Linked DNA regions of Homo sapiens: region 1 is linked to region 2. A link means that fine-mapping ties the variant in region 2 to the expression of a gene that starts in the linked region. Tissue or cell type: whole blood. Region 2 holds a variant in brackets; the other region holds the start of a gene. All regions are shown on one strand. Distances are between the middles of the regions.

Region 1 (2,500 bases), 37 kb after region 2:
AACCAAGAGAGGCAGCTCTGAGCGGGGCAGAGAGAGGCCCCAGAAGCCAGGAGCGGCAGAGGACAGAGGGAGGAGACCGAGTCCAGGGTATGGGAGAAGGGCCCGGTCCGGGCTGTGCGGGTCCCAGCTGGAGGTGGGGCCTCACCTGTGTGCCCGTCTGGCCTGCATGGGCCAGGGCAGTTCCCGGGAAGGGTGAGGGTCCTGCAGCTCTGTCTGGGTGACTTCTGTGAAGGCCTTTCTGCTCCTTCCTCCATCCTCCTCCTCCTCCTCCAGCGCCCCCCAAGGCAGCACCCCAGGGTCTCGGTACCGAAGGGTGGCAGCACTGGGCAGCTCGTTCAGCACAGAAGACAGCGATGGGCCTGGGGAGGAGCAGGGGGCTGGGAAGACCCGGGAGTCTGGGCCCTAATTCCTCCTCCCTCAGACCAGGAAACCAGGTCCCCGGCCCCTCCTCCCTCAGACCCAGGAGTCCAGGCCCCCGGCTCCTCCTCCCTCAGACCCAGGAGTCCAGGCCCCCGGCTCCTCCTCCCTCAGACCCAGGAGTCCAGGCCCCCGGCTCCTCCTCCCTCAGACCCAGGAGTCCAGGCCCCCGGCTCCTCCTCCCTCAGACCCAGGAGTCCAGGCCCCCGGCTCCTCCTCCCTCAGACCCAGGAGTCCAGGCCCCCGGCTCCTCCTCCCTCAGACCCAGGAGAACAGGCCCCCGGCGCCTCCTCCCTCAGACCCAGGAGTCCAGGCCCCCGGCTCCTCCTCCCTCAGACCCAGGAGAACAGGCCCCCGGCCCCTCCTCCCTCAGACCCAGGAGTCCAGGCCCCCGGCTCCTCCTCCCTCAGACATAGGAATCCAGGCACCCAGCCCCTCCTCCCTCAGACCAGGAAACCAGGTTCCCAGCCCCTCCTCCCTCAGGCCCAGGAGTCCGGGTGCCAGCCTCTACTTCCCCTGGACCCAGGGGTCCACAGCCCTCAACTCCATCCCCAAGCGTGGAACCCTCCTACTCCAGGGCAGTGGAGTCCAGGCTTTAACTTCCTTTTCCCTCTAGCTCAGGAGTGTGGGAACCCAGCCTCTCCTATTCCCAAGACACCCAAACTCCCAGCCCTTAGCCCTCCCCTCCTCCCAGACTAGCCTGGTTCTCCAGGCTCCTCCTCCTCAGACCCTGGAGTTCCAGCCTCCAGTTCCCTTCTCCCCCATAATATCAGGAAGTGGAACCTTCTCTCTTTAGCCCTCAGACTCAGGAGGCCAGGCCTCCCCTTTCCTCCTCCAGCAGGACTCCCACCTAGCCTGAAGGTCGGATGGATCTGAGCTTCTCCTGGCATTCCCTACCTCCTCTGGCCTCCCGGGGGGCCAGCCACTCCCTAGAGGAGCCCCAGGCTTCTGATTCCAAGGTCGGGTTTTCTTCCATGGCCCCAGGCTGGGCTGTCTCTAGTGGCCACCAGGCAGACACTGCCCCAGGTAAGGGAGGGGCCAGGGGCAGGTGTGTACCTGGCCAGCAGGTGGCCCGGAGGGAGTAAGGTACACTTCCTGTGGTTTCTCAGGGCCGCTGATGCGAAAGGTCTCCTGGGAGCTGAAGTCCCCGTGGTGCCCCGGGCCTCACAGTTTGGTTCCTGGGCTGGGCGGGGGGGCTGTACCTCACCCTGGGACTTGGTGGACTAAGTCCTTCCCACCGTTTATCACCCAGATACCTGCACGGACACGATGCCTTTGTGCAACACTTTATTGGGAAAGATTTACACACGGTGACCTGTCATAGGCCAAGCGATGAGAAGAGGGCGCCAGGAGTGCTGGGGTCCCGAGGTGGCTCAGATGGAAGCCATGGGACGGCCGTCCCCAGGCCCGCGCACCCGCACCTCAGTTTCCCCTTTGTGAAATGGGAAGCTTATGCTTCCTTCCAAGTCTGCAATATTGGTGCGATGAGCTAAAAGTGGAGCGAAAGACACAAGGAAGAGGCTTCCCACTCCCAGGACCTGCCCCCAAGCTCCGACCCCACATTGTGGATGCAAAGAAAGGGAATTTGCCCAAAACCCACTGCCCAGGGGCCCCTTCCGTTTTGGGGAAGTGCAGTGCTCTCTGGATACCCAGAAGCTGGAGCAGGGGCCAGTGACTCTTGTCTGGACAATACTTTGATTTTGTAGGAGTGGAGGTGGCCTCTGGGCAGAGGGCAGGGAGGACACCCCCGGGTCTGCTTCAGTTGCAGGCAGGGTATTTAGCTGGGGAAGAGGAAATTCTCTCCAGGACCCTCTCCAAGGTAAGGACTCTTTCTGGGGAGGAGACAGCAGCCTGGTTCACAGAATTCCCGGGACCAGCTGGCAGAGGGAGCGTCGTGACAGCTTACTCCTCCCGGAGCTTCTCCGGGGCAAGGCTGGTGGGCTGGGATGCTGCCTTCCGCCGGCTGGGGCTGCCCCCACCTAAAGCCAGCCCCAGCCCCAGGGCTGCCAGGGCCAGGAAGTGGATACAGAAGTAGATGGAGGCCCAGTACCGAAGGGTGTCGGCCAAGGAGAGCAGCACGAAG
Region 2 (2,753 bases):
CTGACCCAAGGCCACATTTCAGAAGCACTGCTCTAGAAAAGAAGACTCTGTAAGCGGCTCTTACGCTGGGCGCGGTGGCTCACGCCTGTAATCCCAGCTACTTGGGAGGCTGAGGTGGGAGAATGGCTTGAACCTGGGAGGCAGAGGTTGCAGTGAGCCGAGATGGCGCCCCTGCACTCCAGCCTGGGTGAGAGAGACACTGGCTCCCACCTCAAGATCGTTTTAGTTGGTCCAGTGTAAGCCTGGGTATCTGGACTTTTTTATTTTTTATTTTTATTTTTTGAGACGGCGTCTTGCTCTGTCACCCAGGCTGGAGTGCAATGGCGCAATCTCGGGTCACTGCAACCTCTGCCTCCCAGGTTCAAGTGATTCTCCCGCCTCAGCCTCCCGAGTAGCTGGGATTACAGGCACATGCCACCATGCCCAGCTAATTTTTGTATTTTTAGTAGAGACGGGGTTTCACCATGTTGGCCAGGCTGGTTTTGAACTCCCTACCTCAGGTGATCCGCCCACCTCGGCCTCTGAGAGTGCTGGGATTACAGGTGCAATGGCGCAATCTAGGCTCACTGCAGCCTCTGCCTCCCGGGTTCAAGTGATTCTCCCGGCCCGGCCTGGCCTCTAATTTAAAAAAAATTTTTTTTTTTTAAAGTTCCTCAGGTAGGCCAGGCGCAGTGGCTCACGCCTGTAATCCCAGCACTTTGGGAGACTGAGGCGAGCGGATCACCTGAGGTCAGGAGTTCGACACCAGCCTGGCCAACATGGTGAAACCCCGTCTCTACTAAAAATACAAAAATTAGTCGGGCGTGGTGGCGGGCGCCTGTAATCCCAGCTACTCGGGAGGCTGAGGCGGGAGAATCACTTGAACCCCGGGAGGCAGAGGCTGCAGTGAGCCTAGATTGTGCCACTGCTCTCCAGCCTGGGGGACAAGAGCAAGTCTTCGTCTCAACAACAACAACAATAACAACAAGTTCCTCAGGTGACTCTGATGTGCAGCCAAGTTGGAAAGTCATCGCTAGATCCGCGGTGTGCAAAGTGAACTGCGGACCGTGGACTGCGGCACTTGTTAGAAAAGCAGAATTTGCATTTTAACACATTCCTAGGTGATTCCGGAGATGTCTGAGAAGCGATACTTTGTCCAGGGGCCACAGTTTGAATAGCAAAGCTCTAGAACAATAACTCTAGGCTTCATTCCCGTTGTCTGTGTGTGGGCCTACGAATATGCATTTTCGCAAGCATTCCTCCTCCCCCTTGCCTCAGACCATTCTGATGCGGGTGGTGCTGAACGGCTCCATCCTCCTTCACGTTCACCTCTCCCTGGGATTTATCTTACTTTCCACCACCTAGACAGGAAGGGGCGAATCTGGCTTCCCATCTCGGTTGTGTGACCCTGGGCAAATGCCTCCCAGTTCGTGGAAGTCTCAGTGTCTA[G/GT]TTAAGTTTTCAATCACAAGTCATTCCTCACATTCATTCATCTATTCCTTTGACAAATGGTTACTGACTACTTCCTGCGTGCTAAGTGCTGGAGATGCAAAATCCAGACAGGGAAACCGAATAATTACGAAAATGACGGTAGACGTACAAAAATAAATCCTAACGAACAAGGCGCGCAGGAGCGCTCCGCCCGGGAGGGAGGTCAGGGAAGTTTTCTCTCCAAGAAGACAACAGAGCTGAGACCTGAAACGAGCAGGCATTAGGGAGCCACCCGTCTCCTCTGTACCTTCTGCAGCGTCCTCAACACACTAAGGAAGCGGAGACGCAGAGGAGAATGACTGTCCCACCATCTGGTCGCCTAACCAGGCAGGGGCAGGACAAAAACTCCATGCCTCACGCTTCCCAACCAATTCTGCTATGCACGGTGCCAGAGACTTAAAGCAGTGTCTCTGGTCCCTTTCTTCTTTCACTCAGCAAATAATGAATTTCAGAGATGTGCCAACATAGAGGCACTTGGAGAAAGACGAGGCAGCTGAGAGGGAAGCTGCTTACCTGGCCGGGACGCAACGGTTGCGACCAAGTCCCACTTCTGCCAGCTACATACACCCTCTTTCACACGCTCTACGAGCAGCTACCGCCCACTCGCCACGCTATTGGTCCAACTAGCATGAATGATAACTTTTAGGGCCAACGAAGAAAAAGGGGTGGACTTTCTTGCCCAGCTCCTCCCACTTGGCCCTGTGGCTGTTTTGATTGGCAGATGACTTCGGCTCGGCCCCCGCTTTAAAGGCACCTGTCTGTCTCCCATTAGGTACGCGGCCCCTAACGCCCACACTCCATGCCTTCCTCCGCTTTCCCCACCCACTTCCAGGACCAACCAATGACTTCAAGGCAGAATATGCCCCCGCAACCAATTAAAAAGAGCTCTAAACTTGACGGACGACTTCCCGCCCCTGGACTGTCGTAGCTCCTCCCCCAGACCAATTGTTTTAAGAGAGGGGGGCGGATACATCCAATCAGCACGACACAGGTCTCTTGATTGACGTTCGGGTCCTCGCGCTGGCGTGTTGTGCCCTGAGGCGGGAGGAGGAGGAGGAGCGGGGAGGAAAACCTGAGCCAATCCTAGCAGCCTGCGCGGGAGGCCAATCGAACGCCGCGCCTTGGAGCGATCACCCAATCCGCGAAAGGGGGCAGGGCGCATCCCTGCCAGGAACCAATAGAAAGCCTCCAAGGGTCAGGAGCGACGTTCAGCGGGAGCAATGACTGGCCTATATTCGGGACTCGGGGGCGGGTCGGCGCCAGAGACGAGAAGAGAGGAGGGGAGG

What was found. PIP is the estimated chance that this variant, and not a neighbour inherited with it, causes the effect.
Region 1: it holds the start of TMC4, and the variant in region 2 is fine-mapped to the expression of TMC4 in whole blood (Lepik 2017, PIP 0.95).

The regions. Positions count from the first base shown.
Region 1 is chr19:54,171,725-54,174,224 of GRCh38, forward strand. TMC4 (transmembrane channel like 4) reads right to left here and starts at 1,436. Exons shown (of 15, transcript NM_144686.4): 1 at 1,315-1,436; 2 at 146-359. The coding sequence starts at 1,393. It overlaps MBOAT7 (membrane bound acylglycerophosphatidylinositol O-acyltransferase MBOAT7), which reads right to left. Exons shown (of 8, transcript NM_024298.5): 8 at 1,691-2,500. The coding sequence ends at 2,320. RefSeq lists enhancers at 1,559-2,375, 2,376-2,500.
Region 2 is chr19:54,134,992-54,137,744 of GRCh38, forward strand. No RefSeq gene overlaps it. Among named protein-coding and RNA genes, the nearest start is that of CNOT3, 1.4 kb to the right of the region's middle. The variant G/GT (reference allele first, on the strand shown) is at 1,429.